3 linked regions of the Homo sapiens genome follow. The protein of the gene in region 2 interacts with the protein of the main gene of each other region in a pairwise test. Each region holds a gene or a part of one and is shown on either strand. Other genes may lie near its edges.

Region 1 (4,155 bases), on a different chromosome or scaffold from region 2:
TTTATTTATTTATTTATTTATTTATTTATTTTGAGACGGAGTCTTGCTCTGTCGCCCAGGCTGGAGTGCAGTGGCACGATCTCGGCTCACTGCAACCTCCGCCTCCTGGATTCAAGCGATTCTCCTGCCTCAGCCTCTCAAGTAGCTGGAACTACAGGCGCGGGCCACCACTCCCGGTTAATTTTTTGTATTTTTAGTAGAGACGGGGGTTTCACCGTGTTAGCCAGAATGGTCTCGATCTCCTGACCTCGTGATCCGCCCGCCTCGGCCTGCCAAAGTGCTAGGATTACAGGCGTGAGCCACCGCACCCAGCTGGTTTTTACTCTTTAAATGTGCATTATCTTATTTGATTCCCAGAATCATCCTATATGAATGCTATTATCTTCATTTTATAATTGAGGAAACAGGTTTATCTAGATTAGGTAACTTGTCTGAGGCTCTTCGGTAAATACGAGTAGCCAAGAAGCTTATTCATCAACAGTGTGTGACTCAGCCCTAAGCACTGCACTTATACCTCCTAGTAATGAGATGTGCGAGGAATGCCCTGGCTACCTTTTCTGCTCATGATATTATCCCTAGATGCTTTCGCATCTTTATTAAAACAGTAAAAATGCAAGAGTCTTCCACCCAAGTTTTCTGTGGTTTAGATTATCACGTTCCTCAAGATGCAAATGTCAAACTATACTGGGCATCCAGTTAACCTGCAAGGCCTGGAGGTGATGGGAGCCCCTCCTAGCACAGGTTCCCAGTCTCAGTCAGAAAGCACCTGCTCAAAATAGAAAGATAATTACAGAGTAGGGGCCAAAGAGACTCCCACTGGAAGAATGGAACTTGTGTAGCTGGGGTGACACAAGCTGGGGACAAGCTGGGGGACACATTCGCGAAGGGTGTTTGACCCAGGCAGTGCACCCACGGCTCCCTTGAGCCACCCTGGCCCGGGTGTTTATTTGGAAGGAGTGTTCATCCCCCAGACTGTTTAGGGCCACGGTGACAGGGAAGGGCTTGGTGAAGGAAAGCAGGTAGGGTATGAAGGCCGCTCAGGTTCACGAAAGACTTTTGCTTGGTCCCCTGCGGGGTGGGAGTGTGTCGCCCCGGTGCGGGTACTTAGAGCGCAACCGGGGAGCTGAGCAGGGGAGCTGAGCAGGGGAGCTGGGCAGGGGCGGCTGCCGCGCCCCACATCCCTGAGGGCGTGTGTGCGCGTGCGCGCGCGTCGCCGTGGTAACCGCGGCGGCGGAAAGGCGCTGAATCACTGGCGCGCGCTTTCCCCGAGCCTGCAGAAGCTGCCGCGGGCGGTGGGCGGGGATCCCCCGGGGGTGCAACCTTGCTCCACCTGTGCTGCCCTCGGCGGGCCTGGCTGGCCCCGCGCAGAGCGGCGGCGGCGCTCGCTGTCACTGCCGGAGGTGAGAGCGCAGCAGTAGCTTCAGCCTGTCTTGGGCTTGGTCCAGATTCGCTCCTCTGGGGCTACGTCCCGGGGAAGAGGAAGCGAGGATTTTGCTGGGGTGGGGCTGTACCTCTTAACAGCAGGTGCGCGCGCGAGGGTGTGAACGTGTGTGTGTGTGTGTGTGTGTGTGTGTGTGTGTGTGTGTGTGTGTGTAAGACCTGCGATGACGACGAGGAGGAACAAGTGGGACGGCGAGTGATGCTCAGGGCCAGCAGCAACGCATGGGGCGAGCTTCAGTGTCGCCAGCAGTGACCACAGGTACGGTATCTACTTCCCAGAGCGCCTGGCCGAGAAATAGGAAAGAGGGCAGCCAGTAGGCAGGCCAATACCCAACAAAAGTAGAATCGAGACGCCCTGAGTTCAGAAGGTGAGTTTCTTAAGATTCTTCTGGGCATTCAGGAAAGGGCATTTTTTGATTGCTGCACTGATTGTTGACTAGTAGGGTGGAGTCGGGGAAATTTGAGTGTCTTTTCCCAACCTCACGAATTGCATTTTTTTAGAAGTAAGGAATCGTTTTCTTTAAACTTCATTCAGAACTATTTATGTGATCTTTCCTATTATTTGCTAAATGCATTTTGTCTCTGTTCCTTACCATAACCTGAAGCTTAAAATCTTTCTCTTCTTCCCTTTGAATTCCCTCCAAGGAATGTCACAAATTAATCGGGAGGATAAACCTGAAATTTTGAGAGTTATCATCTTAAGGTCATTTGTTAATTAAATACAAGGAGGAAAAATATGATATACATACTCATGTGCACTTTTATTGCTGGTTTGTTCATCAAAACATTTTTGTTTGTCGGTGAAATGTTAGTATTTTTTCCACTGCTTGAATTGAAAAGTTGAATGATGTTTTTGATAGTAACAGAAAAAATAAATTGTAGACAATGTTCCCCCCCACACACAAGAATTTTGGAAGTAAATGTTGGTATTTATTTCTTTATTCCTGAAATACATGCTCACTTTCCAAATGCTTCAATTTATTATAAGAAGACCACAATTGTAGAGACTACTAAAGTTATGCCAAATCTAAACTTTTATTTTGTGCTTTTTTTAGTATTATTTTTAATTCAGATGAGGAAAACTGGAGGTGTCAGTTCAGTTATAGACGTAGGAGTCACAGAGAAAGGTGAATTCCTCTGTAATTTGAAAAAGGGAAATGTAAACATATTACCTAAGTACTCTGATTTATTTGTATTAACCATTTGTAATGCATTTGCATTTGTAATGCAAAATGCCGAGGCAAGAACTTAATTTTTGTTTCGAAATAATGAAAATAATTCAGCCAAAATCTTTATGAATTAAAAATAGCCAAAAGAGAGCTTTGGTAATGTATGAATGTAAAAGAATAGAGTTGCTGTTAAATTTTCTTGACTTTTTTTTTTTCCCTAGCCAATAGATAGGAAGCATTCTCTTTAAATAAATACAGTAAGTCCTCACTTAACATTCTTGATACGTTCTTGGAAACTGTGAACCTTTAAGCACAACGAGGTATAAGGAAACCAATTTTACCACAGGCTAATTGATATAAACAAGAGTTAAGTTCCTACAGCATATTTCTGGTCATAAAAAAATCACCAAACTTCTAAATAAAGACCACAACACTTCTAATATTAAACATAGAAATAAATGGGATCTATACATACAGTTAAGAAGGATTAGTAAAAACAAGATCATTATTTACCCAATTATTACAGTTCAAGGTCATGGGTAGCCAGAGTCTCCCTGGTTCAGAGTGGGAACCCCCCCCTCTCCCCTGTCCAGGAAGCTATCCCATCACAGGGTGCACTTTCACAGACACACCCACTCACTCAGACGGGGACCATGTAGACATATGCACAGCTTTGGGATGTGAAGGAAACCGAAGCCCAGAGAAAACCCACGCAGACATGAGGAGAATGAGCAGACTCCACATAGACAGTGGCCCTGGCCAGGAATTTTTTTGTCACCAACGTTGAATGAAACTATGTTATTGAGGCACTGCTGTATGTAGAGCCAGGTATGCCCGTTTCTGGAACGGAGTGCTGCAGATTGCCAGGTCAGAGGGTGTGGGTTTGGGCGTGGCTCTGCCACTTAGTGGCTGTCTCACATTTGGCAAATTCTCTAAACCCTCTAAGGCTCAGTTTCCTCACCTGTAAAATAGAGATAACAATGGGACCTACTTAACGAAATTCCTGTAAGAATTAAATACAATAATATGTTTAAGAGATCTTTGCTCATTGCCTGGCATGTTTTAATAGTAACGCTTCAATAAGTGTTGTTATTTTTGAGATGTGTTCTTTTTCAGGAAATATTTTTCATACCTTAAAAATAATTTGGTACTAAAAAATAGATTTATTTTGACATGTCCAAAGCTTGTTCTGATTTATGATATCAAATCATCATAAAATGCATAAATTTTTCCTTGCAGCACCTTTATAACAGCAACAATAATAAATATAATAATCAAAATCATAAAATCATGTCAATTTAATATTCTGGTAGCTTAATACCCCCAAGGAAGGAGCTTTGCTTTAGTAGGCCTAGAATAATTGGTAGGTTATTTTTCTATTTGTTTTTAAAATTTTTTTTATAGATTTAGAGTGTACAAGTGCAGTTTTGTTATGTGGATATATTGTGTAGTGTCAAAGTCTGGGCTTTTAGTGTACCCATTACCCGAATAGTGTAGGTTATTTTTCTATTTGTCTTTAAAAATCTGTACCTTTAGACACTATTCA
Region 2 (3,646 bases):
CCGGGCCAGGATGGGGTAGCTAGGATGCCTGAGATGAGCTCCTTGTTCTCTAGAGGCTTTCAGCTGGGTTGACATCACTCCCTATAGAAAGCTTAGTGTCCCCTGAGCAGCACAAGCAGGAATCACGTTGGGAGCTCAGGAGGAAGAGAGCAGGGGAAGGTGGGAGAGACAGGGACTGCGACGCCGAGGAGAGGAGAGGACATGCCTGGGGACGTGAAGGGCAAGAGCAGAGACCTGCGGGGAGGGCCCAGGATATGGGGACAAATTGGATGGGAAATTGGGTTAAAGTGGAAGAGACATGAATACAAGGTAAGGTAAAGCTCAAGTTGGTGTGGGTTGGGGGAGTAATAGAAGGAGCATCTTTGATGCCTCTTAAGAGTTAGGGGCTTTGTCCTATAGTTCAACAAAGGACACCTTTTTTTTTTTGTTTGTGTGTTTAATTTTTTTATTTTTAAAAAATTATTGTTTGTGTTTTTGTTTTTGAGATAGGGTCTTGTTATGTCTCCCAGGCTGGAGTGCAGTGGTGCAGTCACAGCTTCCTGCAGCCTTGACCTCCCTGGCTCAAGCCATCTTCCTGCGTCAGCGGCTTAAGGTGCTGGGACCACAGGCGTGTGCCACCACCACACCTAGCTAATTTTTTATTTTTTGTAAGAGATGGGGTCTCACCATGTTGCCCAAGTTGGTCTTGAACTCCTGGGCTCAAGTCATTCTCACACCTCAGCCTCCCAAAAGGCTGGGATTACAGGCGTGAGCCACTGTGTGCAGCCAGAATTCCGTGTGTGTGTGTGTGTGTGTGTGTGTGTGTGTGTGTGTTTTGAGACAGAGGCTTGCTCTGTCGCCCAGGCTGCAGTGCAGTGAAACAATCTCGGCTCACTGCAACCTCTGCCTCCCGGGTTCAAGCAATTCTTCTGCCTCAGCCTCCCAGGTAGCTAGGATTACAGGTGTGCACCACTACGTCCAGCTAATTTTTGTATTTTTAGTAGAGATGGTGTTTCACCATGTTGCCCAGGCTGCTCTCGAACTCCTAAGCTCAAGTGATCCTCCTGCCTCAACCTCCCAAAGTGCGGGTATTACAGGTGTGAGCCACTGCGCCTGGCCCAGGACTCCTTTTGAATGTCAAAATATTTGAGGCAGCTGGGCACGGTGGCTCACGCCTGTAATCCCAGAGCTGAGGTGGGCAGATCACTTGAGTCCAGGAACTCAGGGCCAACCTGGGCTATTATATAGCGAGACCCCTTCTCTACAAAAACATGTATATATATATTTAAGGCATTCTGCTCTCCGTTTCTGCAACAGTCTTTCAGCTGTTGATTCAGAAAAAGATGGAGACACATTGGGACTTTAGAACCTCCTTGCAATAACTCTGCAGTCCCTCAGCAGCGCAGGAAGCATCAGTTAGGAGCCATTGGTAAAAGCATCAGGGGTCACTACCCACAGAGCTGTTTGGCATCTTGGCCAGCGACTGCACACAGGGTAGACTGCTGGTGAGGAGATGGGCCCAGGACAGTCCTTTAGAAGAGGAATTTCTTGGGTTCTCAGCTTTGCCCTTTTTTTTTCCAGGGGCATATGGGGGCCTCTCAGACCGCCCCTCGGCATCCATCTCCCCCAGCTCTGCCTCCATTGCCGCCTCCCATTTTGACTCGATGGAACTGCTTCCCCCAGAGTTGCCCCCCCGCATCCCCATTGAAGAGGGACCCCCAACAGGGACAGTTCATCCCCTCTCAGCCCCCTACCCTCCCTTGGACACTCCGGAAACAGCCACAGGTACCGGAGGTGTGAGTGTGCATGTCTCCAGGCCTGGGTGCCTACCTTCCTGACCACCTCTCCTGGGATCCCGAGGGAGCTGGCCCAGGGGAGTTGGGGACGCATGTGGGGAGCAGGCGCCTTGAGGGGAAGGCAAGGCTTTTTTCTCCCAGGATGGGGGAGGCTGCCCTGACACCCCGGTTTCCCTCCCTCTCTCCTTCCTGAAGGGTCCTTCCTGTTCCAGGGGGAGCCAGAGGGCGGTGAGGGGGACCAGCCCCTCTCAGGGTATCCTTGGTTCCACGGGATGCTCTCTCGGCTCAAGGCTGCACAGTTGGTGCTGACTGGCGGCACTGGCTCCCACGGTGTCTTCCTGGTGCGCCAGAGTGAGACAAGGCGGGGTGAATACGTCCTCACCTTCAACTTCCAGGGCAAGGCCAAGGTGAGCCACCCTGTGGGAAAGGCTCTGTTCTGTGCATAGTTGGCAGTGGGGTGGGGGAGCACTGCCGGGGGAGGGGGTTTGTACCTGGCAGGGCCTTTGCCTCCTACCTCACCTCCCCCATCCCGCCCTCAGCACCTGCGTTTGTCGCTGAACGAGGAGGGTCAGTGCCGGGTCCAGCACCTGTGGTTCCAGTCCATTTTCGATATGCTCGAGCACTTCCGGGTGCACCCCATCCCTTTGGAGTCGGGAGGCTCCAGTGATGTTGTCCTTGTCAGCTATGTCCCATCCTCCCAGCGACAGCAGGGTGAGCAGAGCAGGTCTGCAGGGGAGGAGGTGCCCGTGCACCCAAGAAGTGAGGTGTGTGTGCCAGAAAGATGGGGCGGGGAGGGGGGACTATCACAAGGAGAAGCTTTGCTTGGGAGAGCAGGGTAGAGGAGGCTGTTGTGCCTCGGGGTTTGGAAGGGAAAGAAATGCGCTGATAGGACACAGGAAGGCAGAAGGCTCCTGGCCGGAGCCGGGGCGGCAGCTGAGAGGTGGGCGGGCGCATCCCCATTCCATCGGATCCTCTGTTCCATTGTCTGTCTGTCTCCTGGACCCATCCTGGCCTCGTCTTTGCCCTCCGTCGCAGCCTGGCCTTGGGCCTGCCCTTCCCGGGGACACTCGGTCTGATCCCCTTCCCTCCTCCCTCAATGTCTCATGTCCCTGTCTGATCTCTCCCTTTCCCCTGCCCCACCGTCCCATCTGTCCCCACGTTGCCCCTCCCCCCAGGCCGGGAGCAGGCTGGGAGCCATGCGGGGGTGTGCGAGGGAGATGGATGCCACCCCGATGCCTCCTGCACCCTCATGCCCTTCGGAGCGAGTGACTGTGTGTAAGTGTGGTCCTCCTCTCACCACCGCCCATGATCCATCTTCCATGGATGGGGGGTTGCTCAGGAGATGGGATGTGGGGAGACAGCCACGCTCCTGGGGGGCTGAGTGAAGGGGAGGCCACGGCAGGAGCTCACCTGCCTCCACAATCAGTCTGTTTTCTTACCATTCCTATCCAGAACCGACCACCTCCCATGACCCACCCCAGCCCCCTGAACCCCCTTCATGGACAGATCCCCCACAGCCTGGGGCAGAAGAGGCGTCGAGGGCGCCAGAAGTGGCGGCAGCAGCAGCCGCAGCAGCCAAAGAGAGGCAAGAGAAAGAGAAAGCGGGCGGTGGAGGGGTCCCGGAAGAGCTGGTCCCCGTGGTTGAGCTGGTCCCCGTGGTTGAATTGGAAGAGGCCATAGCCCCAGGCTCAGAGGCCCAGGGCGCTGGGTCTGGTGGGGACGCGGGGGTGCCCCCAATGGTGCAGCTGCAGCAGTCACCACTAGGGGGTGATGGAGAGGAAGGGGGCCACCCCAGGGCCATTAACAACCAGTACTCCTTCGTGTGAGCCAACCCCACCCGCTCCACCCTTTTTAAACCCCCCAGCCCTGCT
Region 3 (3,527 bases), on a different chromosome or scaffold from region 2:
GCATTGTTTGCATGTGGATATCCAGTTGTTCCAACACCATTTGTTGAAAAGACAATTCTTTCTTTAATAAATTGTCTTGGCATCCTTGTTGTAAATCACTTGACTGTAAATGTGAGGGTTATTTCTGGGTTCTCAGTTCTGTTCCACTGATCTACATGTCTATCCTGTAGACTACATTGTCTTGATTCAGCTGTAGCTTTGTAGTATGTTTTGAAATCAGGATGTGTGAGTCCTCCAACTTTGTTCTTTTCTTCAAGATTGTTTTTCGCTAGTCTGGGTTTCTTGAATTTCCATATGAATTTAAGATCAGCTTGTCCATTTCTGCAAAGAGGGCAACTGGGATTTTGATAGGAATTGTGTTCATTCATCAACATGAAACATATTTTCATTTATTTAGGTCTTTAATTTCCACAGTGTTTTGTAGTTTTCAGAGTATATGCTTTATACTTCTTTTGTTAAATAGATTAAGTATTTTATTCTTTTTTGGTGTTTTTGTAAATGAAATTGTTTTCTTAATTTCATTTTTAGATTGTTCATTGCTAATGTGTATAGAGATACAATTGATTTTTGTATATTCTGTCTTTTGGAAGAGTTTGTGATCTGTTACCAATTTTTCATTAAATGTTTGATGGAATTCATCAGCAAAGCCATCTCTGCCTGGGCCTTTCTTTTCTTTTTAACTTAAAAAAAATGGAGACAGGGTCTTGCTCTGTTGCTGAGGCTGGAGTGCAGTGGCACGATCAGGGCTCACTGCAGCCTTGACCACCTGGGCTCAAGTGATCCTCCTGCCTCAGACTCCCACTGTGGTAGATTTTTTTTGTTTGTTTTTGGAGACAGGGCCTCACTCTGTTGACCAGGCTGTAGAGCAGTGGTGCAATCATGGTTCACTGCAGCCTTGATCTCCCAGGCTCAAGTGATCCTCCCACCTCAGCCTCCCAGGTAGCTGGGACTATAGGAGTGCACCCCTATACACCTGTCTATTTTTTTTCTTTTTTTTTTTTTTGAGACAGAGTTTTGCTCTTGTTGCCCAGGCTGAGGTGCAATGGCGTGATCTTGGCTCACAGCAACCTCCGCCTCCCGGGTTTAAGCCATTCTCCTGCCTCAACCTCCAGAGTAGCTGGGATTACAGGCATGTGCCACCATGCCTGGCTAATTTTGTATTTTTAGTAGAGACAGGGTTGTTCCATGTTGGTCAGGCTAGTCTCGAACTCTGGACCTCAGGTGATCCGCCCGCCTCGGCCTCCCAAAGTGCTGGGATTCCAGGCATAAGCCACCACGCCCAGCCTATGTATTTTTTTTTCGTTTGTAGAGGTGAGGTCTCACTAGGTTGCCCAGGCTGGTCTTGAACTCCTAGGCTCAAGCAATTCTCCTGCCTTGGCCTCCCAAAGTGCTGGGATTACAGGCATGAGCTACCACATCCAGCTGTAGTAGTTTTAAAAATTACTAATTCAATTTCTGCATAAACTTTTGTACTATTCAAATTTATTTATTTATTTAGAGACAGAGTTTCACTTTGTCACCCAGACTGGAGTGCAGTGGCACAATCTTGGCTCACTGCAACCTCTGCTGCCCAGGTTCAAGTGATTCTCCTGCCTCAGCCTCCTGAGTAGCTGGGATTACAGGCGCCTGCCACTGTGCCTGGCTAATTTTTGTAGTTTTAGGAGAGACAGGGTTTCACCATCTTGGCCAGGCTGGTCTTGAACTCCTGATCTCGTGATCCACCCGCGTCGGCCTCCCAAAGTGCTGGGATTACAGGTGTGAGCCACCGTACCCAGCCTATTTATTTATTTTTGAGACAGAATCTTGCTCTTTTGCCCAGGCTGGAGTACAATGGTGTGATCTTGGCTCAGTGCAACCTCTGCCTCCCGGGTTCAAGCGATTCTCATGCCTCTGCCTCGGCTTCCGCCTCCCAAGTAGCTGGGATTACAGGCGTGCACCACCACACCCAGATAATTTCTGTATTTTTTAATAGAGACGGGGTTTTGCCATGTTGGCCAGGCTGGTCTTGAACTCCTGGCCTCAAGTGATCCACCTGCCTTGGCTTCTCAAAGTGCTGGGATTACAGGTGTGAGCCACCGTGCCTGGCCTATTTGTTTATATTTTTTGAGGCAGGCTTTCATTCTGTTGCCCAGGCTGGAGTGCAGTGGCAAAATCATAGCTCATTGTAACCTCAAACTCCTGGGCTCAAGCAATCCTCCCATCTCAGCCTCCTGAGTAGCTGGGACTACAGGCATGCCCACTACACTTGGCTAATTAAACAAAAAAATTTTTTTAGAGATGGGGTCTTGCTATTTTGCCCAGGCTGGTCTTGAACTCCTGGCCTCAGGCAATCCTGCCTTGGCCTCCTGAAGTGCCGAGATTATAGGTGTGAGCCACTATGCCTGACTCAATTTTTTTTCAATAGCATTGGATCTTCCAGTAAAACATTCAAGTTCTTTGAGAGTATGAGCTTTGGAAATGAAAACCTAGGTTCGAAGTCCATCTCTGCAGCTTCTGCTTGGATCTTTGAATCTCAGTGTCCCTGGCTGCACATTAAAAAGGACAGTAACACATTGTTGTGAGGTTGAAATGGGCCATTTTAGGCATGCAAAGAGCTTAGAGCTGGGCCCAGCATCAGGCTCTGAGTAGCTTTTGAGATGACTTTACATCTTTCTCCCTCTACATTTTGGCAACAGGGTGCTGTGCCGTTCCTGGTCAGTGCCACCTCTGGCACCACTGTGCTAGGGGCCTTTGACCCCCTGGAGGCAATTGCTGATGTGTGCCAGCGTCATGGGCTATGGCTGCATGTGGATGTGAGTGGGACTTCGGCTTGGGGGTGCGGTGGGGTGGGCTGAGCCAAGGCCAAGGCCCACGTTGTTCCTCCTGCTCCACAGGCTGCCTGGGGTGGGAGCGTCCTGCTGTCACAGACACACAGGCATCTCCTGGATGGGATCCAGAGGTGCATACAGTCCCCTTCTTCCCAAATCCCGCCCTTCAAACCATTGGTCCAGAGAATCATCATGGACTAGGGAGTTTAACATGGCTGGGGTAGGAGGCTGAGGGGAGGGGGACTGGAGAGAGGATTGATTGGAGCTGGGAGGTCAGACATGGCAGTTCTTCCTGATGCTGGGGTGAGGGTGAGACCAAAGCCCCTTTGCTGGGGACCTGGAAAAGGAGGAAGGGCTCTGGTTGGGCAGCTGGAGGAGGAGCCACTGACCTGCCTTTGCTCCACCCCATCCAGGGCTGACTCTGTGGCCTGGAATCCCCACAAGCTCCTCGCAGCAGGCCTGCAATGCTCTGCACTTCTTCTCCAGGATACCTCGGTGGGTCTGCCCCTGCCCCTGCACCAGCCCCACCTCTCTCTGGAGCTCTGCCTTCTCTATCCCACCTTAGATAAAGTTCAGGCCTTTCTCTATTCTCTTTACCATCCCTTCTGAAGCTGCATCTCAGCTACCACCCTAACCTGTATTAGGCTCCTTCACTCCCCCAGTGGCCTCTCTTAAAAGAAAAGTTTCCAGCTTGAAGTTGGAGTCAGAGGTATCCTGGAG

Evidence for each region.
Region 1: the proteins of SH2B1 (region 2) and KIAA0319 interact in a two-hybrid assay, tested with the Homo sapiens proteins (one study listed by BioGRID and IntAct).
Region 3: the proteins of SH2B1 (region 2) and CSAD interact in a two-hybrid assay, tested with the Homo sapiens proteins (one large-scale study listed by BioGRID and IntAct).

Annotation. Positions count from the first base shown.
Region 1 is NC_000006.12:24,643,280-24,647,434, reverse strand, and holds the start of KIAA0319 (dyslexia-associated protein KIAA0319 isoform a precursor), read left to right. Parts: upstream 1-1,243; 5' UTR 1,244-1,662; coding exon of another isoform or gene 1,663-1,699; exon of another isoform or gene 1,700-1,808; intron 1,809-4,155. UniProt on the Homo sapiens protein: Involved in neuronal migration during development of the cerebral neocortex. May function in a cell autonomous and a non-cell autonomous manner and play a role in appropriate adhesion between migrating neurons and radial glial fibers.
Region 2 is NC_000016.10:28,870,220-28,873,865, forward strand, and holds part of SH2B1 (SH2B adapter protein 1), read left to right. Parts: intron 1-1,560; coding exon 1,561-1,764; intron 1,765-1,970; coding exon 1,971-2,182; intron 2,183-2,314; coding exon 2,315-2,486; coding exon of another isoform or gene 2,487-2,539; intron 2,540-2,950; coding exon of another isoform or gene 2,951-3,050; intron 3,051-3,227; coding exon 3,228-3,601; 3' UTR 3,602-3,646. UniProt on the Homo sapiens protein: Adapter protein for several members of the tyrosine kinase receptor family.
Region 3 is NC_000012.12:53,160,538-53,164,064, reverse strand, and holds part of CSAD (cysteine sulfinic acid decarboxylase), read left to right. Parts: intron 1-2,675; coding exon 2,676-2,792; intron 2,793-2,873; coding exon 2,874-2,938; intron 2,939-3,220; coding exon 3,221-3,302; intron 3,303-3,527. UniProt on the Homo sapiens protein: Catalyzes the decarboxylation of L-aspartate, 3-sulfino-L-alanine (cysteine sulfinic acid), and L-cysteate to beta-alanine, hypotaurine and taurine, respectively. The preferred substrate is 3-sulfino-L-alanine.